Linked DNA regions of Homo sapiens. The protein of the gene in region 6 purifies or fractionates together with the protein of the main gene of each other region. This does not show direct contact. Each region holds a gene or a part of one and is shown on either strand. Other genes may lie near its edges.

Region 1 (3,500 bases), on a different chromosome or scaffold from region 6:
ATATGTACAAAACATATGTGTACGTTCATTATATACAGAATATGTGTATTCTATAGAATATACATATACACAAAAATAGTGACCACTTATCACTCTTCTTTTTTATTTGAAGCACAGTGTAGTTAAGAGAACAGGCTTTGGAGTCAGGAAGGCTCCAGTGCTGTCATTTAACAGTGATGCAATTTTTGGCGAGTAACTAACCCTAAGCCTCAGTTTCCCATCTAGGAAATGGAGATAATTATATACCTACCTCACAGGGTTGTGAGGTTCACACACCATCATACATTTCGAGCACTCAGCTCAGTGCTTGGCACATTGTTAAGTGCTCTGTGACTATTAGCTATTATTATTACTTTCCTGTTTTTTTCTATTGAGTCTTTAATTTTTTCTTATCCCTGTACAAATCTGAAAAAGGATACTAACTTTCCTCTGACATACGTAGAAAACATTTTTCCAGTTTGTCAACTGCTTGTATTTTTATTATAATTTTTGGCATAAAGAAATTAAATATTTTATAAGCTTAAAATTACTTTTTTTTTCTTCGAGATGGAGTTTTGCTCTAGTCACCCAGGCTGGAGTGCAATGGTGTGATCTCAGCTCACTGCAACCTCTGCCTCCCAAGTTCAAGCAATTCTCCTACCTCAGCTTCCCAAGTAGCTGGGATTATAGGCATGTGCCACCACGCCCAGCTAATTTTGTATTTTTAGTAGAGATGGGATTTCACTATGTTGGCCAGGCTGGTTTCAAACTCCTGATCTCAAGTGATCCACCTGCCTCAGCCTCTCAAAGTGTTGGGATTACAGGCATGAGCCACCACACCCAGCAAAATTACTTCTTTTAAAATGTTTTTATGTGTTTTTCTTTACTTTATGATTAGAAAATACTTTCTGCCCTTGAGATACATGCACCTTTCTTCCTTCTATTCTTTTTTTTTAATGTAAATTCTTTTTTTAAAATTATTTTTATTTTTTGGACACAGGGTCTCGCTTTGTACCTCAGGCTGGAGTGCAGCAGCACAATCTCAGCTCACTGCAGCCTTGACCTCCTGGGCTCAATCGATCCTCCTGCTTCAGCCTCCCAGGTAGCTGGGACTACTGGTGTACCCCACCACGCCTGGTTAATTTTTCTGTTTTTTGTAGAGACAGGGTTTTGCCATGTTTCCCAGGCTGGTCTTGAACTCCTGGGCTCAAGCAATCCACCTGCCTCAGCCTCCCAAAGTGCTGGGATTACAGGTGTGAGCCAGCACGCCTGGCCCCTTCTATTCTTTAGCTTAATTTTTTACATTTAAGTCCAATCTAGCTGTAATTTATTTTTGTGTGTGGTGTAAGATAAGGATCTAATTTCATTTTCTCCATATAGATCATCTATTGTCATGGCGGCATCCATTGATAAATCTGTCCTCTTATCATTTTAAAGAAATGATATTTTGTTGCTGTTGTTGTTTTGAGATGGAGTCTCACTCTGTTGCCCAGGCTGGAGTGCAGTGGTGTGATCTCTGCTTACTGCAACCTCTGCCTCCGAGGTTCAAGTGATCCTCCTGCCTCAGACTCCCTGGTAACTGGGATTACAGGCGTGCCACCATGCCCAGCTAATTTTTGTAATTTTAGTAGAGGTGGGTTTTACCGTGTTGCCCAGGCTGACTGAACTCCTGACCTCAAGTGATCACCCACCTTAGCCTCCCAAAGTATTGTGATTACAGGTGTGAGCCGCTGTGCCTGGCCAAGGAATGATTTAAACAAACTTTTACATTGTACCAGACAATTATTGGGTCTTTTTCTGGCCTTTCCCTTTTGTTGAGACTATTGAGCGTCTAGTGTGAGGTAAGCAGTCACGCAGAGAGCATTGGCCTCAGGACCACAGTGGAGGGCCCTGAAGCCTTGATGAGCTCGATTTGTTGTCCTCCCCCCTCCCCAGGGGATTCGTTTCCCTTTCTTTTTCTTTCAGTTCATGTCTCTTCCTCTCCCATTTCCTTCCCTAGGTCTCATAAGAATAAAAATAGCTCTCATTCATTGAATACCGGCTATGCATAGGCCTTTGCCTCGATTGTCTCTAGTCCTCACCACAGCTGCATACAGCTTGGCTGTGAGGTGGAGATACCAATCACCCTACCCAGGATGGGCAGAAGGCTAGGGAGGTGCAGGGAGGAGGCCAGGAGGCAGAGGAGGTGCAGGGAGGAGGCCAGGAGGCCAGGCAGGTGCAGGGAGGAGAGTTGCTTCAGTCCTGTCCCTCATTGCTCCTCTCTTGACCTGTCCCCTCGCCTTACGTTTCCTCAGGTCAATCTCTTCTCTGTACTACCTGACCATGATCCTGTGAAAAAACTGGAGTTGCCCATCTTCTTCTCAAACAAACTAGCAAACAAACCCCTTCTCAAACCCCAAAGCCCACAGGTTAAAGGCTGAACTTATTAGCATGGCAGAAAATGCTCTTGATAGTCCGGCCCCAGCCTTCCCCAGCCTCTTCTCCTTCCTTGCTCCAGCATGCATCTGATTAGCTCATCATCAGCTTGTTCTCTTCCTTGCTTGGCAGAGTTGAACTGAGGCATGGGGAAGTAGGGTGCTTTGCCCAAGGACACATTGCTTGGATGTAATGGAGCTGGATCTAGAGTCAGTGTCTTCTCACTGACAACAGCCTGGCCTATTCCCTAAGCCTGTGATGCACTTGTTCCTCTTGTCCCATCTGCTGGGAAGCTCTTCTCCATCCTGATGTGCTAGTGGATATGTATTCGTCCTTGAGTACCTAGCTCAAGAGGACTAGCTTCAAGAGGCTTTTGCCAGCTCTGACCAATGAGCAGGACCAGTGCACGTGGTTATGCTGGTGGTGCCCTGTCCGGGGCTCCTGACCGAGCATGGGAGTTGGAGCTGAAGTCCAGCATACACCCTGCCAACCAGGCCATGGGCTGGGTGGGAGGAGCACCTTTTTCTAATTCATTTGCCCAGAGGGGACATCTCCGTGTACTGGCAGTGGCCCTGAAATCAGGCTAGTGACCCCTGCTTCTGTTTTCTTGCAGCACCTTGATGGCATATGATTAGGACATGACAGAAGAGAAAGTGGCTAAGGTGGCAGGCTGACAGCGAATAGTCAGGCTGGTGTAGGAGGCAGCCCAGGGGACAGTGGCGTGCCCTACCCCCCTATTCTTGTCTGCTCTTGTGCCCCGGAGCCACAGGCTTCTGTCTAGGGGTTCTTGGGGAGAAGGAGGTGGATCACCTCTTGGGGGTTGGAGGAGTCAAAAGAACCTTGAGAGGGCATGCCTGGGTTGGGAGTCCTGCAGAGTCCAGATTGACTGTGCCAAGTGCTATCCTAACATGGCCATTAGGGACATTGAACTCCATGCAGCAGTAGCAGGGACTGCTGAAAACCATGCTGCAGACAGGCCAATCTCAGATCAAGTACAAGTACATCAATCAATGTATTCAACACCCAGTATGTGCCCAGCACTATGTTAGGGGTTGTGGGTTCTCATTTAACGTCCACTGAAAAATGTAAGTATATATTCTTACTTC
Region 2 (3,500 bases), on a different chromosome or scaffold from region 6:
GTCTTGAACTCCTGACCTCAGGTGATCCGTCCACCTTGGCCTCCCAAAATGCTAGGATTACAGGCATGAGCCACCACGCCTGGCCAAGACTTGGAAATTTTAAGATAGTAAACTTAAGAGTTAAAACGTACATTTCCAATGAATAGTTAATTAGAAAAGTTTATTATAAAGCAGTCATTTTTTTCTAATTGTTAAAAGTGATATATTCTGACCACAAAAAACTTGGAAATAAAAGCATAAGGATGCAGGAAGAAACCACTATAACCTTATCACTGAGAAATATAAAATGATATAGTTTAATATTTTTTACATTATAACATTATAAATATTTATATTACAGGAAATAAGATATGTGGAACGGAGTTATGTATCAAAACCCACTTTGAAGGTAAGTAATTTAAATTGTGCTTTAAAATTTCCAGAATTTAAAGGAAATGTCAATAAAAATGCATATACTTATGATTTGGATACATGTGAAAGTCAAAGCAGGATTATGTAACAGTTAGGAATAGCTAACTATTCAAATATTCAGTTAAAGTAGATGACTATAATAGAAAAACATGTCAGTTAGTCTCTGCCAATGTTTGTTGCTTCCTTATAGTCTGCTACAAAACAACATTCCCTCTAGAACTGGGCAGTGTTCTTCTTTTACTCACAGGGACTCGCATTGTATTGTGTGTGGTACAAGCAGAGACTGTATAGAAGATCCTAGAAGAGAGGGAGTGGACCAGTTGGGAATTAGACAAGGAGGGCCATTACAGCATCTCCTAGGACCTTCTGAAGAGTCTCTGTTTTGTAAGGGTCACTAAAGTGACTTAGTTAAGATCTTCTATCAAAATCTAAGCAACCATTCTGTTATTTATCTCTAAACTTAATAGGAGATTGTGGAAGACAAGTGTAAGGAGAGAACTGTCACAGTGCTGTTTTATAGTATTCAAGAGAGCTTTTATCTTCTTTTGCTTAAAGTTCATATTATTGTCTTACTGTTTAAGAAATTATGGCTCTGGGCCGGGTGCGGTGGCTCACACCTGTAATCCCAGCACTTTGGGAGGCCGAGGCAGGTGGATCACGAGGTCAGGAGATCGAGACCATCCTGGCTAACACGGTGAAACCCCATCTCCACTAAAAATACAAAAAATTAGGTGGGCATGGTGGCAGGCACCTGTAGTCCCAGCTACTCGGGAGGCTGAGGCAGGAGAATGGCGTGAATCCGGGAGGCGGAGCTTGCAGTGAGTTGAGATCACGTGCCTGCACTCTAGCCTGGGCAACAGAGCAAAACTCCATCTCAAAAAAAAAAAAAAAAAAAAAAAAAAAAGAAAAAAGAAATTATGGCTCTGGCTGGGCACAGTGGTTCATGCCTGTGATCCCAGCACTTTGGGAGGCCAAAGTGCGTGGATCACCTGAGGTTAGGAGTTCAAGACCAGCCTGGCCAACATGGCAAAACCCCATCTCTATTAAAAATACAAAAATTAGCCGGGTGTGGTTGCAGATGCCTGTAATCCCAACTACTCAGGAGGCTGAGGCAGGAGAATCACTTGAACCCGGGAGGCAGAGGTTGCAGTCAGCCAAGATCATACCACTGCACTCCAGCCTGGGTGACACAGTGAGACTCCATCTCAAATTACATATAAAAAAAGAAATTCTGGCCCTGGCTCTGTCCTAGTTAAGTGGTATTGCCCCACCTAGGATACAGGTCTTGATTCCTAGCCAGAGTTCCTTTCAGTAAGGGACCCTCTTAGAGTTGTTTATTATGCAGTTAACAAGAGTAAAGTGGCTGAGTGTGGTGGCTCATACCCTTAATCCTAGCACTTTGGTAGGCTGAGGCAGAAGGATTGCTTGAGCTGAGGAGTTTGAGCTGCAATGAGCTATGATTGTGCCACTGCATTCCAGCCTGGGCAGCTGAGCAAGACCCTGTCTCAAAAACAAAAATACAAAAACAAACAAAAAAACAAGGTACAGTGATCATTTCTTGAATTTTGACTGAGGAATAGAAAGGAAACTTAAGCTTCTGTCCTCAAACCTCCTGTAGAGAACTGGGAAGGATCTACATCTGTTTTAGAGTTGGTTTCTATAAGGTCTTAAATCATAAAGCACTAGCATTGAACTGATTATCTTGACAGCTGTTCAACTATTGAGATTAATTTTTGATGACTCATTCATAGAAGTGTTTTTTTGATAATATATTTATGTTTATTTAATGAAATACGATTTGGGTAAAATACCTATAATTTTTACCATCTTGTGTCTTGCCAGGAAGTGGTCATAGTAAGTGCTACAAGAACACCCATTGGATCTTTTTTAGGCAGCCTTTCCTTGCTGCCAGCCACTAAGCTTGGTTCCATTGCAATTCAGGGAGCCATTGAAAAGGCAGGTCAGTAGTTACTTGGCTTTTTGTGTTAAGGGAGCAAAAAGATTCCATGGAAAAGATATTTATTTTGCATTAACTATGTATGTAACACTTAGAAATAACTTAATGCCTACATTTCTGCTTTCCCTTGTAAAGAAGTCTTTGTACTATACAGTTTAGATTGAAACTCAAAACTGACAAAAAAAAGAAACCATTCCTATTGTGTAATGTCACCTACCTTATTAGGTAATCACTGATTATTAAATTGAATTAAATGCCTTTTTGACTTTTTTTTTTTTTAATAAAGGGATTCCAAAAGAAGAAGTGAAAGAAGCATACATGGGTAATGTTCTACAAGGAGGTGAAGGACAAGCTCCTACAAGGCAGGCAGTATTGGGTGCAGGTACCTGGAAGACTTTTTTGCTTTTATACTTAAAATGTGTAAAAGGGGCCGGGTGCGGTGGCTCATGCCTGTAATCCCAGCACTTTGGGAGGCCGAGGCAGGCGGATCACGAGGTCAAGAGATGGAGACCATCCTGGCCAACATGGTGAAACCCCGTCTCTACTAAAAATACAAAAATTAGCCAGGTGTGGTGGTGCACTAATCCCAGCTACTTGGGAGGCTGAGGCAGGAGCATCGCTTGAACCCAGGAGGCGGAGGTTGCAGTGAGCCAAGATTGCACCATTGCACTCCAACCTGGGCGACAGAGTGAGATTCTGTCTGAAAGAAAAAAAAAAAAAAAAAAAAAAGGCTGGGCATGGTAGCTCACGCCTGTAATCCTAGCACTTTGGGAGGCCGAGGCGGGTGGATCACGAGGTCAGGAGATTGAGACCATCCTGGCTAACACAGCGAAACCCTGTCTCTACTAAAAATACAAAAAATTAGTTGGGCGTGGTGGCCAGCACCTGTAGTCCCAGCTACTCCGGAGGCTGAGGCAGGAGAATGGCGTGAACCCAGGAGGTGGAGCTTGCAGTGAGCCCAGATCGCGCCACTGCACGCCAGCTTGGGGGACAGAGTGAGACTCCGTCTCAAAAAAAAAAAAAAAAAAAAAAAAGTATAAAATGGCAAAATGAAGGTTATTTAAGCTTAAATGAAATATTAAATGCATGATATAATTTGTAGTTATATTGGCAGAAGAAATGTTGTAGTTTA
Region 3 (3,500 bases), on a different chromosome or scaffold from region 6:
GGGATAGAAAGGGCAAGCCCTGTCTCTGGGGAGAGACAGTGTGGCCTAAGTCCTCTTGGGAGAGAAAGACAGACGCAGGATGACAGACAGACTGAGACCCAAGATCCTCCAGGGCTCGAGAATGGACAGACAGGCAGGTGGACCGGAAGCAGGGGGTGATGTGCAGACAGACGGGAAACTTTAAGGGCATGAGGCTGGGCGCGGTGGCTCTTGCCTGTAATCCCAGTACTTTGGGAGGCTGAGGCGGGTGGCTCACTTGAGGTCAGGAGTTTGAGACCAGCCTGGACAACACAATGAGACTCCGTCTCTACCACAAATTTAAAAATTAGCTGGGCATGGAGGTGCGTGCCTGTGGTCCCAGCTCCTCAGGAGACTGAGGTGTGAGGATCGCTTGAGCCCAAGAGGTTGAGGCTGCAGTGAGCTATGATCGCACCACTGCACTCCAGCCAGGGCAGCAGAGGGAGACCCTGTCTCTAAAAAAAAAAAAAAAAAAAAGCAGAGACCATATCTGGCACGTTCCCTGCCGCCTCCCTAGCACATGGCCTGGCATAGTCAATCCTAGAGAAATATCAGTTTGGAGAATGATTTGGCCTTAGGGGACAGAGAGCTGCAGCCAGGCACTCACCGAGGGGTAGTCGAAGCTGTAGCTGTCAGACAGTCCTGGTTCGGGGGGCAGGCGGGCGCTGCTGAGGGGGCTGAGCAGGCGGGACTTGAGCTGGAAGGCTTTGCTGCTGCTGCTGCCACCTCCAGGGGCTGGGGGGTTAGTTGGGGGGCCCTCAGCTGGGCGGCGGCTTCTCCCGGCGCCTCCCCAGCCCCGGGCCTCCTTACCCGCCAGGTTGCTGGCCGGGAGCAGGCTGTGTAGGTTCAGGTAGGGATTCAGGGGAATCCGGTAGTCCTTGGGGGGCTCCCCCAGCAGTGAGACCTGTGGCGGGAAGGCAGGATTCGAGAGGGCCCCCGGGAGAGGGAACCCTGCGGAACAGGAGGCTGGTGTGGTGCCGCGCGCAGGGCAGGGCCTTACCCCAGGGGGCGTCGGCAGAGGCCCACTGTCTTTCTGGAGGCCTCTGAGGCCAGAGCCTCGGAGCCCCACAGGGGCGGGGGGAGGAGTGAGCTGGGCCGCTGGGGGACCCAAGCCCAGGGCCTCCCGGTCACCCCCAGCAGGGCCAAGCACGGATGGCAGCAGGGGTGGTGGCTTCCCTCGCCGGGGCGGCAGCTCCGGGGGCAGGCCCCCTCCTAGGGAGGGAAGGAGGATTTCAGGGGCCCAGGCTCACAGGACCCCTCTCCCCAGGGCCCTCCAGCTCCCACCTGGACCAGGGCCCAGGGGTCAAGAGACAAATCCATGCTGGCCACTGAGCAGAGCTCATCCCTGGGCCCTGAGTGGAGGGCACCCAACTGATGGACAAGGGCGCTGGGACCCAGAGGTTGGGTCACTCACCCGAGGCCACGTAGCAGGGAAGGAAGGGGAAGTGGCTGGGGGACACCGTGTGGGCAGGGTCTGCGTTACCTGCAGGCAGCTCCCCGAGGAGGGGGTTGGCTGGCTGGGCCCCAGGCTGGAGGGCGCCCAGGGGTGAGTCTCCCAGGATGCCGGGCTTCTAGGGACAGAGCACAGACAGTTGCAGATGGGGGCAGGGTGGCCCAGGGAAGCAGACAGGTGTGGCCCAGAGTCTTGGCAGACACACCCCAACTCCAGGGCACGGCCGATCCTGGGCAGACAGGCACAGGGTTCCCCAGTGCCCGCCACACTCCAACTCTATCACTGTCCCATCAGCCATGGTGACCGAGGGTCTCCTGAGCTCCAGGCCCCAGTTCCCTGGCCAATGATTGCAGCACAGTATCAACTGCAGCCACATGGAATGGGACAGCCACACAGTGTTTCAGCCACTTTTAGTCACAGAAGGCCAGACCCACAGGCTCACATATTCTGTCAGTTACCACCAGACAGACACACCTGACTTAGAATCCAGGGAACCACACCAGACAGGACGGAGCATGGGTGTATGTCTATGTGTGTGTGTGTCTGTGTGTGTGTGTGCGTGTATATCTGTGTCTTTGTTTCTGTGTGCATGAGTCTGTCTTGTGTCTATATGTGTGTCTGTGTCTATGTGTGTGTCTTTGTCTTATGTCTTTGTGTGTCTATGTCTCTGTGTGTATATTTGCATCTTTGTATGTGTGAGTCTATATGTATACCTGTGTTTCTAGGTGTGCGTGTGTGTGTGTGCACACACTGAGGGGATAGACCTGGAGTTTTTTCCCAGGCATGTCTATAGAGCTTCCGAGCAGAGTCTATTCACAAACTGGTGCCCAGCAGCGGCGCTCCCAGCCCACACCCAGTTTCAGGCTGTAAATGGGCGTGTCCAGGTCCCCTGACCCCACCCCAGGCACCAAGTCCAGGGGCGCTCTCAGAATGGAGGGAAAGATGGCGAACCATCATGAGCAATTGCCAGAGGGGGATGGGGATGTGGGTGGGAAAGGCAGGGGTTTGGGGGAGTCGCCCTCACCCTGGTTCTGCGCCCCCAGGGCACAGCCAGAGGTCCCCCCACCCCACCGATCGCACCAGCTGTGTTGAAAAGAGCCTGTAGGGGCTGTAGAGCAGTGGGTGAGGGGGATGCGTGTGTTACCTTCTGGCCCTGGGTCTGCAGGGCGAGCTGCAACAGCGCCGTGGACAGGGCTGGCCCATTGAGCAGCGGCATGGCTGGGGGGGCACCCAGGAGGCCTGGAGGGAGACATAGGAGGATGTGTGGGGGTCCCTGTGTCCTCCCTGCCCCACCTCACGAAACACAGCCCTGAACCCATTGATGGGGCAGGAAACTGACACTCTGGGGCCGGGGGGTGGGCAGTGGACTTGCCCAAAGGAAGGGCCTAGAAGGGGCAGAGGCTACTCCAGTGAAGGTCAGCCCCCTCTTGTCAGCACCCCACCTCACTGCAGGCTGCTGTGTGGCCCTGGTCCCGGCCCCCAGTTGTGGACAGCAGCAGCCCCCGCTATGACTCCATACTCCCCCTCGGCCCTACTCCTGGGGCTCCTGTCACTGCAGCCAAGATGAGCAGTTTCGGGAAGTGCCGGGGGCAGCGCTGCAGCCCCTGTTCTGCACAGTGGGGCCCCTGTCCAGCCCCACCTTACCCTGCTTCCCCCCCGCACTGCCATGGAGCAGGGGGTTGAGCAGCAGCTGGAGGGACGCGGATGGGCCCAGGTTGTTGAGCAGCTGCAGGATGTTGGGCTCGGGGAGGAGTCCCTTCCCCCGATTGAGGGCCTGCAGGAAGGAACAGAAGCAGCTCAGAGTGCCGCTGGGGCCCTGACATCCCCATGGGGCTCCCATCCCCACCCCGCCACCTCTGCCCGCACAGGCTCACCGTGGCCTGGGCAGCGATGAGAGCGGCCAGCATACTGCGGCCGGGGGGCCCAGGGGCGCAGAAGGAGACTCGCAGGTGGCTGCCCCCCAGGGACAGGCCGTCCGCCTGCTGCTGTGCCTCCTCCGCCATCTCAGCCGTCTCATACTCCAGCACCG
Region 4 (2,765 bases), on a different chromosome or scaffold from region 6:
CTGATTAACGTTTAGGACCAAAAGAGAAAGTGTGTGTAAAGAGGGTTGAAAGCTGTGTAAAGCATCATGTAATATGAGGTGCTTATTTTATTATTCTTTAAATATAATGGAGTGTGTTGCCCACAGGTTAGTTCTTTGCATGAAGAAGAGCTGCAAATCCAAATCATGTTACAGTGGATAATCTTATATGTAGAAATACCCTGAAGTGCTCCCAAGATCTCCTGGAAATTCCTTGTTTGTTTTTCCATTCTGATGTTTTACTAAAGCTATGGATCATCTTTGAGTAATTCTTCTGTAACAGATTGTGTGTGTGCGTGCACGTGCTCATGTGTGCTTATGTGCACATGGTATGCGTGTGTGCACACACGAGTGTGTGTGCGTGTCTGAGCACAAACACGTATCTGTCTTTACTTCAGCACCACTCTTCATGGATTGGCGATGTCTTCATTGGAATTGGAAGCGACAATATTTACATTTTCTTAATCTAAAATATTTATTTTAAAACACTAAATTGAGAGATTTCAGTGTAGAGAAGATGATCAGGAAACAGCCATCTGATTACTGGGCACACTGTTTTGGAGAAGCCTTTAGTCAGACTTTTCAGACAGAGTTTGTGTAATGAATCTGGTTGTTCTGTATTTTACCTGTAGGTCTCCTGCCTAAAATTGATAAGTATTAGTAAGTATAAGTGTGTATATATATTATTACTGTCTTGTTCCAGAAAGGATGTAAAGCTGCTTACAACAATACATAAAAGTAAGAAAAATGAATGCTAGGTGAGGAAAGTTAGGCAAGAGAAAATAAGAACTCCCCAGGGGCCAAGTGGAAAGTAGTTCAGTTAACTTTTCTAGCCCATCTTTTTTCCACTTTAAAGGATGTAGATGAAGAAGCCGGTGGGGAGACCCTGGGGCCTCTCAGCACCAAAATGTGACTTAAATTAGCACAGTGCAATGAACCAAATATAGAAAGACGGCTATCTAAGTCCGGGTGTTGGGGCAAGCAAATATTCCTTTTATAAGTTTGAATCATTTTAAGAAAAAGAAATTGGGCTCAACACAGCTGTTTCTCTGGCCCAACAGGTAGACGTCGTGGACACTGGTTCAGGATGGACCCCACTCATGAGAGTCTCTGCGGTGTCGGGAAATCAGAGGGTGGCCTCTCTTCTAATTGATGCTGGGGCCAATGTGAATGTGAAGGACAGAAATGGAAAGACGCCCCTTATGGTAGGTCCTCCTCCCGAAAATAGGCAGTTTTCTACGTGGAATTAATGTCAGAGCTTTTTCTGTAATTAGACAATTCTTGTGAGTTCAGCCCTGCACCAGCCCTTGGGTTTGACTGTGTGTGTGTGTTCCCTGTCGGCTTGTTCATAAGGGCATGAGGCTGTCACTAGAATACTTTCGTTGTCTTTTTACAACTATTTAAGGACTAAAGAACCCCTGTCCCCAGGACCACTGTGGGATCAAAACAGAACTGGTGAAACAAAGAACAAGCTGCTTTCTGTTCTGGTTTTAGTGTGGATAGAGGGAGTCCATTTTCCATTTTCTCTGGAGTTGCTACCATACAGCTGCAGAGGAAGCGCTGTGCCTGCAGGCCATGCAAAGCCACAGTGGTCTTTTGGGGTTGCAGGGGGGCTGCTGGGACCCTGCATGTGCCAGGCTCATGCCCCCTGCTGTGTGTGCCCTGGAGGGAGAAGCTCATGCACACCACCCTGGGTTTTGTTTTCTAGGTGGCTGTGTTAAATAATCATGAAGAGTTAGTTCAGTTACTTCTTGACAAAGGGGCAGATGCAAGTGTAAAAAATGAGGTAAATGAGTCCATCTTTATGTAAAGATTTTCCTCGGAGGGGGAGAAAACATTTATAAGCATGTAAAATTTTTGTTGTTTCCTGTTTCAGTTCGGCAAAGGTGTCCTAGAAATGGCCAGAGTTTTTGACAGACAGGTTGGGATGCTCTTTCTGCCTATCAAGGCTAATTTTTAGTCCTTCTAGACTCAGAAAAACCACCAAAACCCTGGATTACATTCGCCTGTCTGTTTTGTTTATCTAGAGTGTAGTCTCCTTATTAGAAGAAAGGAAAAAAAAGCAGAGGCCAAAGAAGTCTTGTGTCTGCTGATGAGAGCACCACTCATCTGCGAAACGCACGTAAAACAAAGTGAACCGTGACTGTTAAACTAGGGATGGGAAATTCTGCATCTTGGGGGGCTGTACATTTATTTATTTAGTTGAAGATTCACTGATCCCACTTTGAAATACATCTTTTTACCTAAGCATGTGCGTATGTGGTACCATCATTGGGTGTCTGTAGAATGGGGATGTTTTCTTGCACTTGCGCCTTTTGGAGTTAGACATGAAACAAAATATTTATGCACCGGAGCTACACAAACACACATGGGGTCTCCCACTCCCGGCTCCTGCCCCGCAAGCTGTCCTTCTACCATGCTAGGCCTTGTTGGAATTCTTTCCCTCATGTGTTTTCAATTAAATCCTCCCCTCCCAACTTAGGGCTTCCAGGCTGGTTGTCAGGCCGCTGCTCCCTCCTGGAGTGGCGCTCCTCCGAAAAGCCCAGGAGTTTTCTCTTCAGCTGTTGGCCTCACATCAAAGCTCAGAATACATATTTCAGGACTCTGATTCTGTTCTATTGGAGGTGTCTGATTGAGGGTCAGCCTTTTTGGCCACAGACAGGTCTAATGTGTTTGCATATACTCATGCCCTGACAATGGAAGACTCAGCCTGCTGATGGGTGGACGATGTAGCCAAAGGGTAGTAT
Region 5 (3,500 bases), on a different chromosome or scaffold from region 6:
ATAAATAAATAAAATAAAATAATAAGCCTGGCGCAGTGGCTCACGCCTTTAATCCCAACAGTTTGGGAGGCTGAGGCAGGAGGACTGCTTGAGGTCAGGAGTTTGAGACAAGCCTGGACAACATAGTAAGAACCCATCTCTACCAAAAAATGTGAAGGCTGGGCGCAGTGGCTCATGCCTGTAGTCCCAAGACTTTGGGAGGCCGAGGCGGGTGGATCACCTGAGGTCAGGAGTTCGAGACCAGACTGGCCAACATGGCAAAACCCCATCTCTACTAAAAGTATAAAAATTAGCCAGGCGTGGTGATGGGTGCCTGGAATCCCAGCTACTCAGGAGGCTGAGACAGGAGAATAGCTTGAGCCTAGGAGGCAGAGCTTGCAGTGAGCCGAGATCGTGCCACCTCACTCCAGCCTGGGCGACAAAAGCGAGATTCTGTCTCAAAAAAAAAAAAAAAAAAAAAAAAATTTTTTTAAATTAGCCAGGCGTGGTGGTACATGTCTGTAGTTCCAGCTATTTGGGAGGCTGACCCGGGAGGTTGAGGCTGTAGTGGGCCATGATTGAACCACTGCACTCTAGCCTGTGTGACAGAGGGAGACTCCATCTCAAGAAAATAATAATAATAATAATTATTATAATAATAATAATTATTATTATTATTTTTAAAAATTTTTTCTCTGGCTGCTTTGCTGCCAGCTTCACCCCAGAAGTCCATTCTCTGTGAGGTTCCGCCTGACAGCTGTGAGCATATTGACTAAATGCTGTCTTCAAGGTGCATGGCAGGGACTATCTTAGAAATACCATTCTCCTCTTTCATTCTTTGACTTAATGTTTTATGTGAAGTTTTCCATATTAGGGCCGGGCAGGGTGGCTCACGCCTGTAATCCCAGCACTTTGGGAATCCGAGGTGGGTGGATCACTTGAGGTCAGGAGTTCAAGACCAGCCTGGCCAACATGGCAAAACCCCATCTCTACTAAAAATACAAAAATTAGCCAGGCGTGATGGTGGGCGCCTGTAATCCCAGCTACTTGGGAGGCTGAGGCACAAGAATTGCTTGAACCTGGGAGGTGGAGGTTGCAGTGAGCTGAGATCGAGCCACTGCACTCCAGCCTGGACGACAGAGCAAGACTGTGTCTCAAAAAAAAAAAAAGTTTACTGTTTTCCATATTAGCAATGTTGAATGCTACCCTATGTCAAATGGATTTTTATACGCAAAGGATTAAGCATATTGTGAGCACATAGTCTGATGATTTGGGGCAAACTGAACAGAATCACGTCAGCTGCAACGAGACTGCGTCTCCCTGAAGCCCCCTCAAGACCTTATTTAGCCCCTGCCCCCCAACCCAAGGGTAACCCCTGATCTGGCTGCTAACAGCATAGATTAACTTTGCCTGTGTTCAAACTTCCTATTAACGGAATAATTCAGTATGAACTCATTTCTGGCTCTTTTTGGCTGAACATGTTTTTGACGTTCACCCATGCAGGTGCAGGCAGCAGTAATGTATTTGTTTTTATCAATGTTAGTATTCCATTGTCCACAATTTATCTTTTCTGCTGTTAGTGGACATTTGAGTAGTTTGCAGTTTTGGACAATTTTTTTTTTTTTTGAGTTGGAGTCTCACTCTGTTGCCCAGGCTGGAGTGCAGTGTCACGATTTCGGATCACTGCAACCTCCACCTCCTGGGTTCAAGGGGTTCTCGTGCCTCAGCTTCCCAAGTAGCTGGGATGACAGGAGTGTACCATCATGCCCTGCTAATTTCTGTATTTTTAGTAGGGATGGGGTTTCACCATGTTAGCCAGGCTGGTCTCGAACTCCTGATCTCAAGTGATGCGCCTACCTCGGCCTCCCAAAGTGCTGGGATTACAGGCGTGAGCCACTGCACCTGGCTGTTTTGCACTATTATGCATGTGGCTGCTATGAGCATTCTAGTCCCTGTCTTTGGGTGTCTCTGCCCTGTTTCTATTGGTCTGAATTGGGGGTGGCATTGCTGGGTGCTGCCTCATTCTTTTCCAGGCCCTCAGGATTCTCTGGGGGCTGGGCAGCTGGGCTGTGGCCCTCGTGTCGCTCATCCAACCCTGCTGCCGGGCTTGTCCCTGTAACTTGCCTGCCCTTGCTCGTCCTCCAGGTGTGTCTGACGCTGACCGCCAAGCGCATGGCCCGGAAGAACTGCCTGGTGAAGAACCTGGAGGCTGTAGAAACCCTGGGCTCCACGTCCACCATCTGCTCAGATAAGACAGGGACCCTCACTCAGAACCGCATGACAGTCGCCCACATGTGGTTTGACAACCAGATCCACGAGGCTGACACCACTGAGGACCAGTCAGGTGAGCGCAGGCCCCGGGTGAGGACCATGGGGGCCTGGCTCCAGGAGTCCCTGGCCCTCACACATGCCTCCCCCAGGGACCTCATTTGACAAGAGTTCGCACACCTGGGTGGCCCTGTCTCACATCGCTGGGCTCTGCAATCGCGCTGTCTTCAAGGGTGGTCAGGACAACATCCCTGTGCTCAAGGTGGGTTCAGCTACTGGCCTCACCTCGGCCCTGCCTGTGTCCTCCCCTCAGCTGTCCCTGTTCTGACAACCCTTTCTCCTTGCAGAGGGATGTGGCTGGGGATGCGTCTGAGTCTGCCCTGCTCAAGTGCATCGAGCTGTCCTCTGGCTCCGTGAAGCTGATGCGTGAACGCAACAAGAAAGTGGCTGAGATTCCCTTCAATTCCACCAACAAATACCAGGTACTCTGGGCTTTCCGGGAGAGCCAGCCTGGACCTCAGGTTCCTTATGACGCCTGTAAAGAGGTGTCATAGAGCCTTGATTTTCCCGTCTGTAAAATGGGAATGATAATACCCGCCTGGTGGGGAGAGGAACAGGGAGAGCTTGAGAGTGGGAGCCGGATCTCTGTTGGAGTGAGACGCTGAGGAGTAAAGATCTTCCTGCAGGCCAGGCGCGGTGGCTCACACCTTTAACACCAGAACTTTGGGAGGCTGAGGTGGGGGGATCACTTGAGGCCAGGAGTTCGAGACGAGCCTGGGCAAGATGGCAAAACCCCATCTGTACGAAATTTTTTTTTTAATTAGCCAGGTGTGGTGGTATGTGCCTGTGGTCTCAGCGATTTGGGAGTCTGAGGCAGGAGGATTGCCTGAGCCGGGGAGGTTGGGGCTGCAGAGAGCCTACATCACGCACTGTACTCCAGCCTGGGTGACAGAGCAAGACCCTGACTCAAAAAAAAAAAAAAAGTTTTCCTACAGCAGAGAGTGGGAACAAGCAGGAGACCTCTTGGGGCAGAGCAGCAACTTTAAATTATTCAGCAAACTTTTTTTTTTTTTGAGACAGAGTTTCGCTCTGTCACCCAGGCTGGAGTGCAGTGGCGCGATCTCAGCTCACTGCAAGCTCCACCTCCCGGGTTCACACCATTCTCCTGCCTCAGCCTCCAGAATAGCTGGGACTACAGGCGCCCGCCACCATGCCCAGCTAATTTTTTGTATTTTTAGTAGAGACGGGGTTTC
Region 6 (4,222 bases):
TGCTACTACAGATTTACATTATGTTACATCACATTTTCTTATTATAGTCAGGGCAGATATATTTCCATTTTACAGATAATGACTGTAAGCCTTGGAATGTCATTGCAAAGAATAGTTATTGTCAAGATATTCTAAGAAATGAGAAGACCAACTTTAAGTAATTAGCTTCTGAAAATGGTGCCTCTGACAGGAATTCATCCACCAGAAAGATACATTTGTGCAATCTTTATGTTCTGGAACACATATTTGCCTCCTGAAATGCCTAACTCACTATCCCAACAAGTGTTCCATTGAAGCTTCTAGTACAAGGAAATACACTACTTCACGTGGCCATTGCCTCCTTTGCAAGAGTTACCTTTTTCATTATGCATTATGATGAAGTAACATATTGGTGGATTCAAAACTGTGTAGCAAAAAGAATACAAAGGTCTCAACTCTAACCACTATTACAATCAAATGCGGAAAGGAGACAGAACTGTTATACATAATGAGAAACAGACACTCTTGGAGAAAAACCTCAGGCAAGATAATTAAAACCAGAAGCGTCTTCATTTCTCTTTCTTAAATCTTCAACTATTTGGTACTAGTGGGCAAAAGACAAAGGAGCTGGAAATTCTTTCCTATGTGAAGAAACATGGTATTTTTCATTTTTCCAGCAATAATTTCTGTCCCTCATATTCTGTAAGAAATGTTCCTCTAATCCACACAGTTCGATGTCAGGTAACATAAGAACTTGCTACTTTTCCCTGTATTTACATAAGGGAAGCTTTCAAGGAGCTCGGGAGGCTGCACAGACATAAACTATGCACATACAACCAGCATAATTGAAAGCAGCCGGCCAAGCACAGTTTCTTGGGAAGCTTGAGCAACACATGCGGTTTGTTGCAGAATCAATTAAGGTTACTGGGAAAAGTTGAGCTCCGGTACAATAAAACGAAACCAAAGTAATTATAATCAAATGAGGTCTTCATGAAGACATGACCGTAAATGGGTTCAGTTTTTTAGAAAGAGAGGCCATCAGTAACAAAAGGCAAATGATTTATGTCTGGTTAGTTTTTTACTCCTCTTGCTAACTTTGTTTGCTGAATGGAGAATGGAGTGGGATGCATTTTGTCAGGCTGGTAAACTAGGGACATCCACTCACTTTCATGAGGCAAATCTAGTTCATTATATAAATATCTTTGAAGTTGAGCGGTTGAGCACCAAGGCTTCATGGCACCAAAAAAACCAAAAAAAAATCCTAAATGTGTCAACACCAAAGTCAAATGATTGAAATGTTTCCAGATATTAACAATTATGTCTAAGAAGAACACTTTTATACTAATACATATTACTAATTATAGATCTACTTAATGTTTAAACTAATTTTAAGCATCAAATTGCATAAGAATAAATGAATAGAAAATCCCTGAAGGATGGAATTCATAAATCAATCAGACACATAAGCAAGTAAACATGTAAGGATGTAATCAAATGGAAATATTTTTTAATAAAACAAAAAGAAACTTAGAAATGATCATTTTACAGCTAAGGAAACCAGAGCCCAGAGAGGTTGAGTCTTATACATGGTCACTGTGTTTGTGGCAGAGGTAGAAATAGAAGCCAAGATTTGGATTCCTGCTCTCTCTCATGTTGGCCTTAGCTGTCCCTAGCTTTCCTGATGTTGTATGTTCTTTAGCCAAGAATCTGTACATGAATATCCATTTTAAAACTTTTTTTAAAATATCATTTTTAAAAAGTGATTTTAAAGTAAAATTGAGAGAAAAACAAAGATTTTCTAAAGCACTCACAGTAGATCTCCACCTGGATTCCTTTTTCCAATTTCCTAGATTCACAAGTTGCTGTGCACAGGTAAGAGTGTTCGTTCCCAAAACTAACAGGATTCATTGTCAGCGTAGATGTGGTCCCCTCATTCGTCACCTTCCCATTCAGTGGACTATCTATCTGGGTTCTCCAAGAGAAAAATGGGGACTCACAGCCTGTGGTGCTGCAAGTCAATGAGACGGAGTCACCAATCTGAGCAAGATATCTAGATTCTGGGGTGGTCTCGATTTTAAAAGCTTGAGCTGCAAAAGCAAAAAAAGACAGAAGCAAATTTACCACTAGTTTGTCTAGTATTCTCCTCCTTCTTCTCTGTATAATGTCTAAAATATGATCAGACTGATCTCTTTCCTAAGCTGCTTCAAACTAACTGCAAGGTAGCCAAAAAGCACCGAAGTCACTGCCAAAAAAGTTTATGGAATCATCTTCAGTAGAGAGAATTCTCAGTTCCAACCTTGATGCCCATTTATCAAAGCTGTTTTGTTATTTGCTAAGTTTGACCTCATTGTCAAGTATAGGAAACTAAAGAGACAGACCGACTAGAGACAGAATCCAAATTACTCAATTGCCTTTGGAAAAAAAGATACCAAAAACATCAATTTTCAGCTCTAACTATGACAGTACAATGGTATATAGCAAAACTCAATTGCATATTAAAAGTTAGACTAAATTAACTTTTCCTACTGTTTAAAATCCTAGTGTCTTTACTTCACTACTATCGCAAAACTGACTGAAGCCAAAACCAGGGCTAAAATTGAATGCTAACATTTGAAACAGATGAAGGGAAATAACTTACAAGCTGCAAACATTATCCAAAGTATATTTGAGGCTCCAAGGATCACGACCATCTTCCCAGGCATTTTAAGTTGCTGTCGTGATGAGAAAATAGTGGTTCCAAAACCCTTATTTGTGTCCCACCTGTGTGTGCCTGGGAGGGTATTCAGCTCCTGAAGCCAGTGAGGCCCGATGCAGATACCGCGGAGTGAAATAGAAAGTCTGTGCTTTATAAAGGGTCTTGTTGCAGAGGCGGAGGGAAATCCCTTCAAGGGGAAACCCAGGGCAGAGCCAGGGAAAAAAGTTTAACAGACACCCAGCCAAGTTCCACTATTAACCCCTTCAGTTGCTCTCACTGCTGAAGCTCCTCTCTCTGTCCTGGCAAAAGAAGACACTTCCAAGACTATAAAATACAGGCTTTTCCTCATCTTCGACTCCAAAAGGCTATCTTTACTGGAAAGATAAAGGACAATGCTGATTGCAGAATGAAGCTTTCTGAATCCAATGTGGGTTAAGGGGGTGGGGAGAGAAAAAATGGAGACAGAGTAGTAAATTCTACTCTGGTTTTTGAACTGGATAAATAACGACTATGCCATGTGAATTGATTTTCTCCATCAAGGAAATATGTTTGCAATTCTAAAAGAGATTAATTTTTTTCTCTTACAAGAGAAAGGAAAAAGTTATTTCTTTTGATGAGTCATTTTTTAAAAAAGGGACACCATAACTTCTTAGTTTTATATTTATTCATAAAAATAGTTCTTTTAGCAACAAACATCAACTTTTTGAAACTATTTTCTTGAGTAGAAAGTAAAGGACTGTAACTGAAATTGCTGCCAAAACAAGGGAAACAATTTTTTTTTGTTTTAGAAAAGTTACCAATAATTTGGTTAAATTGCTGGATAATTGGAATTTTTTTGCATACTTAAATGCAAGTGTATGGAATCCATCTGAAGTGGCAAATCTCTTGGGCTGTGAGATTTAACCGCAAACCCAGTTAAAAAATTAAAAATAATAGGTTTTTATTATAGGCAAGGGGACAATAACCAACTCTATGTTCCTTTTCCCCCCAGTGAAGTGCCTTTTTAAAAAAATCCCAATTAACTAACTGGCTTAGCCTTGCACACACATAGCCCAAGGCCTTGCAAAATGCTTGCCCATCAAAAAGAAACCGGAATAGCCACTTCCTTTTATTAAACACGTGCAGGTCTATCTCCCCCATTGGATCATCAGTTCCTCTCATGGTCAGGACCAGTTCTTGTTCATTGTTGTATCTACTTCTACAATATCTAATGCATGATTTTCCACTTAGTGGATACAAAAAATGCAATAATAAACGTTATACATTTGGAGAAGAAAATTCTAAATACTAGCAATAATATGTAAATACGGCATGAAAAAACTGTTAAATTCTACAAGAAAATTCTAAAGCTCAGAGACTCAATGGGATGTGTACAATAAACTTGTACTATATAACATTTGTACTCTGTAACAAAGGCCATAGCTGAGGTCTGGAATCTATAACTGTCCCTACCTGGTTGGAGAGGCTTCTGGATCTCCTCTTGGATACTGATGTGGCTCCCACTAAAAGACAAGGAGGGAAAAATAAGTTGGAGATGCTGTTCTAGGG
Region 7 (3,500 bases), on a different chromosome or scaffold from region 6:
CCACCACCGCAGGCCCACCCCACCCTCCCAGCGACAGCCCGTCTCCACCACACTGGGACTATTAATCCCTTCCCATCACCTTCTCAACAGCCCAGAGTCCTTGCTTGAGCTGAGTCAGAAGATGCGCGCACCAGCATGTCTTGGTCGAGCTCCTGGCTGGCCCCTGAGGGCCACGTCACTCTGACCCCAGCCCTGACCCATGGGATGCACAAGCTGGGACAGACAAAAGCAACTCTATGTAGCCAGGAACAGCCCAGAGCTAGAACTCAGAAATATGGCTCCAATCTCACTGCAGGTATCGAGCAGGAAGAGGATCATCCAGGGACGGACAGATCCAAGGTATCTGCACGGCTACCTCAGGAATCCTGCCCAGCCACAGGGAGGGTGGTGGTGATCCCAACACCTGGGCCCAGCCTTCCTATGCAAGGGACCCACTTAGGGCTCTCCTGGAAATTTGCAGAAGCTTTTGGGAAGGAGGCCAGGGAGACGGGAAGCAATTTCCCTACTCCACTGGAGGCAGCTGAGCCTTCCCTGGCAAAAGCAGATCAATAGTCTGTGTTTCTGCTGAGTGAACTTGACAAATGGGACTGAGAAGACACTGCGTGATAGATCCAAACCCAACCTGAATCCAAACCTAATCCGCCACCATGCACAGGAAACAGAAAAGCCAGGCACGGGATCAGAAATACTGTTGACAGTCTAAGGACTTGGGTAGGAATAGCCATCCCAAATCTTCCGTTTCCATTCTCTGAAGGAGCTGCCCTTCTTCTAGGGCCAGTCTAGGATGGATTCAGATAAAAAAGGAAGACAGGCTAGAATCATCCTGTCAACCTTTACTCAATAACTGTTATGTTTCAGGCATTGTGCTGGCCTCAGGGTACAGAGATAAAAGATATAGTCCCTTCTCAAAGATTTATATTCCAGTGGAGAAGATAAAGAGTAAATAAGTAGTATCACTATAGACATAAAATGGAACCTACATACATGGAATTAGAGGAGCATGTGCTGTGTGTGTGTGTGTGTGCTGTGTGTCTATGTGTGTGTGGTGTGTATGTGTGGTGTGTGTGTGTGCTATGTGTGGTGTGTGTGTGCTGTGTGTGGTGTGGTGTGTGTGTGCTGTGTGTGGTGTGGTGTGTGTGGTGTGGTGTGTGTGTGCTGTGTGTCTGTGTGTGTGCTGTGTGTGGTGTGTGTGTGCTGTGTGTGTGCACTGTGTGTCTCTGTGTGCTGTGGGGGGTGTGTGTGCTGTGTGTGTGTGTGCTGTGTGTGTGATGTGTGTGGTGTGTGTGTGTGCTGTGTTGTCTGTGTGTGCTGTGTGTGTGTGTGTTTGGAGGGGCTGGGTGGTTGAGCCAAGGCTTCTCTGAGACTGAGCTGGGCATGGAAGCAGAGAGGAAACTATTAAAGCTCAAACTGCCAAACTGCTACAGGGTCAAAAGGGGGCGCTGGTGGGGCTCCACAGCCTCACCACAGACTGAAGCTCTCTGTGCCCCAACTACTAAGCAGGATTTATACCAGGCTAGGGAAGCTCTGTCCATAAGGGCTACCTAAGGGGCGTTAAGTGTACTCTGTTTCAGGAAGACCTCTGTGAATAACTGCATAGAACATTAGAAATCATATACAGGTCCTTAGTACTTACACGTACCTGCTTAGAAAGGTTTCTTTTCCCCCTTAGAGATAGGGTCTTACTATGTTGCCTAAGCTAGTCTGAAACTACTGGCCTCAAGTGATCCTCCTGCCCTGGCCTCCCAAAGCACCAGGATTACAGGTGTGCAAAACCACTCCCAGCTTAGAATTTTTTTTTTTTTTTTTTGAGACAGAATTTTGCTCTTTTTGTCCAGGCTGGAGTGCAATGGTGAGATCTCGGCTCCCTGCAACCTCCGCCTCCCGGGTTCAAGAGATTCTCTTGCCTCAGCCTCCCAAGTAGCTGGGATTACATGCATGCGCCACTGGGATGCCCAGCTAATTTTGTATTTTTAGTAGAGACGGGGTTTCACCATGTTGGCCAGGCTGGTCTCGAACTCCTGACCTCAGGTGATCCGCCTGCCTCAGCCTCCCAAAGTGCTGGGATTACAGGTGTGAGCCACCGTGCCCAGCCAGAAAAATTTTTAAACATGTAATTATATAATTTCCTATTTATCATTTCAATAAAGCTCCACTTATAATATGCCTACTATATACAAAAGTATTGTTTGCTAGTATTTATTTAGACTGTGAGCTCCTTCTCAAAAGAAGAAATGTCTTCCCTGGCAGCTCAGAAGCTCCCTGGATGTGGGGACCTGAGTGAGATATGCACTTAAGCGGGGGGTCCTGTCATCTCCCCTTCCTAAATCTCATCCTCTCAGCACTGTCTTCAATGCAAATAAGTCCCTGCTACTCAGAGAAAGGTCGCTGCCTCCGAATGGAAAGTGTGCTTTCTCCCAACCCCACCAGAGCTGCTTTCCAGTCCCCAGGCCCAATCCTCAAGTTGCACAATGTGCCTCCACCGCGCCTCACCTTGGATCCTCAGGCTCTCCTGGTACTGGATGATGAAGTACTCCTGAGTCTGCTGCAGCTTTTTTAACTCATTCTCTGTGTCCTGCGTGACCAGTCGCAGCTCCTCAAACGTCTGGTTGATCTGGAGGTGTTTCTGGGACATGGCATCAGCAAGGCTTCCAGCTGGAGAGCTACCCTGGGAACATATGGGGGGCAGTGCAAGGCAGTGCGAATGGGAGGAAGACTGAGGCCTTAATCCCCAGGAAAAGCCAGCTCCTACAACCAGGGTAAGACCCCAAAAGGTAAATTTTGAGTCGGGAGGAAAAGCAAACGTCATCATGAGACACAGGGTGGAGTGGGAAAAGTGAGAAACAGGTGAGCGGACAGATCATGGCTCAGATCACAAAGCATGGGAGAAGCTTCCATTTCAGATCTGACCTCCACCAGAGTATTCCAAACGAGGTCCATTGAATTACCTTTGGAGAAACTAGAACGTAACCTGGTCCAGTGTCACCTGGGTTTTCCTACTAATGAGGAGGTGGAGTGATTCCTCTTCCACTCACTGACCCAATGCAAGGACGGCATTAAGCATTAGGGAGGCCATGGGGAGCAGGGCCATGTGAACACACATCATCTGTGTCCTCACTCAAGATATTCTCGTGATGGAATCATTTGCTTCCACCATGGAAGAGGCCAAACCTCTTGCAGGCATCCTGGAGACCCCAGGGTGAAGTGATGGGGGAGGCATAAACAAGGTCTCTGTGGACCCAGCCCTGTAAGTGACCTGATCAGACCACTCCTTCCACACCTGATTCAGGGGCTAGGGAAAAGTCTTTCCTAAGTATTCTCACCTGAATATGAGCATGCCTTTACTAAAAAATTATTCAGCTGAGGTTGAATTACTTTGCACTTGTTCACATTGTCTTGTGGTTGCAATCTCATCAAGGTTATAAATCAGTTAAGATCAGAGACCACATCTTCTATTTCATTTTTTTTTTTTTGAGACAGGGTCTCACTCCATCACCCATGAG

Evidence for each region.
Region 1: the proteins of VCAM1 (region 6) and PODXL2 purify together in Homo sapiens (affinity purification with mass spectrometry; 2 studies listed by BioGRID and IntAct, with this or other methods). This does not show direct contact.
Region 2: the proteins of VCAM1 (region 6) and ACAT1 purify together in Homo sapiens (affinity purification with mass spectrometry, with the first as the bait; one large-scale study listed by BioGRID). This does not show direct contact.
Region 3: the proteins of VCAM1 (region 6) and RAVER1 purify together in Homo sapiens (affinity purification with mass spectrometry, with the first as the bait; one large-scale study listed by BioGRID). This does not show direct contact.
Region 4: the proteins of VCAM1 (region 6) and FANK1 purify together in Homo sapiens (affinity purification with mass spectrometry; one large-scale study listed by BioGRID and IntAct). This does not show direct contact.
Region 5: the proteins of VCAM1 (region 6) and ATP1A3 purify together in Homo sapiens (affinity purification with mass spectrometry; one large-scale study listed by BioGRID and IntAct). This does not show direct contact.
Region 7: the proteins of VCAM1 (region 6) and STAT5B purify together in Homo sapiens (affinity purification with mass spectrometry, with the first as the bait; one large-scale study listed by BioGRID). This does not show direct contact.

The regions. Positions count from the first base shown.
Region 1 is NC_000003.12:127,642,685-127,646,184, forward strand, and holds part of PODXL2 (podocalyxin-like protein 2 precursor), read left to right. Parts: intron 1-3,500. UniProt on the Homo sapiens protein: Acts as a ligand for vascular selectins. Mediates rapid rolling of leukocytes over vascular surfaces through high affinity divalent cation-dependent interactions with E-, P- and L-selectins.
Region 2 is NC_000011.10:108,131,567-108,135,066, forward strand, and holds part of ACAT1 (acetyl-CoA acetyltransferase, mitochondrial isoform b precursor), read left to right. Parts: intron 1-340; coding exon 341-388; intron 389-2,253; coding exon 2,254-2,371; intron 2,372-2,654; coding exon 2,655-2,750; intron 2,751-3,500. UniProt on the Homo sapiens protein: This is one of the enzymes that catalyzes the last step of the mitochondrial beta-oxidation pathway, an aerobic process breaking down fatty acids into acetyl-CoA.
Region 3 is NC_000019.10:10,320,030-10,323,529, forward strand, and holds part of RAVER1 (ribonucleoprotein PTB-binding 1), read right to left. Parts: coding exon 3,346-3,500; intron 3,246-3,345; coding exon 3,116-3,245; intron 2,711-3,115; coding exon 2,616-2,710; intron 1,590-2,615; coding exon 1,502-1,589; intron 1,231-1,501; coding exon 1,019-1,230; intron 923-1,018; coding exon 626-922; intron 1-625. UniProt on the Homo sapiens protein: Cooperates with PTBP1 to modulate regulated alternative splicing events. Promotes exon skipping. Cooperates with PTBP1 to modulate switching between mutually exclusive exons during maturation of the TPM1 pre-mRNA.
Region 4 is NC_000010.11:126,007,328-126,010,092, forward strand, and holds the end of FANK1 (fibronectin type 3 and ankyrin repeat domains protein 1), read left to right. Parts: intron 1-1,079; coding exon 1,080-1,223; intron 1,224-1,726; coding exon 1,727-1,804; intron 1,805-1,894; coding exon 1,895-1,939; intron 1,940-2,045; coding exon 2,046-2,111; 3' UTR 2,112-2,265; downstream 2,266-2,765. UniProt on the Homo sapiens protein: Through the activation of JUN and AP-1-mediated transcription, may regulate apoptosis.
Region 5 is NC_000019.10:41,980,731-41,984,230, reverse strand, and holds part of ATP1A3 (sodium/potassium-transporting ATPase subunit alpha-3), read left to right. Parts: intron 1-2,124; coding exon 2,125-2,323; intron 2,324-2,399; coding exon 2,400-2,509; intron 2,510-2,594; coding exon 2,595-2,729; intron 2,730-3,500. UniProt on the Homo sapiens protein: This is the catalytic component of the active enzyme, which catalyzes the hydrolysis of ATP coupled with the exchange of sodium and potassium ions across the plasma membrane.
Region 6 is NC_000001.11:100,718,320-100,722,541, reverse strand, and holds the start of VCAM1 (vascular cell adhesion protein 1 isoform a precursor), read right to left. Parts: upstream 2,801-4,222; 5' UTR 2,682-2,800; coding exon 2,618-2,681; intron 2,067-2,617; coding exon 1,791-2,066; intron 1-1,790. UniProt on the Homo sapiens protein: Cell adhesion glycoprotein predominantly expressed on the surface of endothelial cells that plays an important role in immune surveillance and inflammation.
Region 7 is NC_000017.11:42,220,892-42,224,391, forward strand, and holds part of STAT5B (signal transducer and activator of transcription 5B), read right to left. Parts: intron 2,666-3,500; coding exon 2,491-2,665; intron 1-2,490. UniProt on the Homo sapiens protein: Carries out a dual function: signal transduction and activation of transcription. Mediates cellular responses to the cytokine KITLG/SCF and other growth factors. Binds to the GAS element and activates PRL-induced transcription.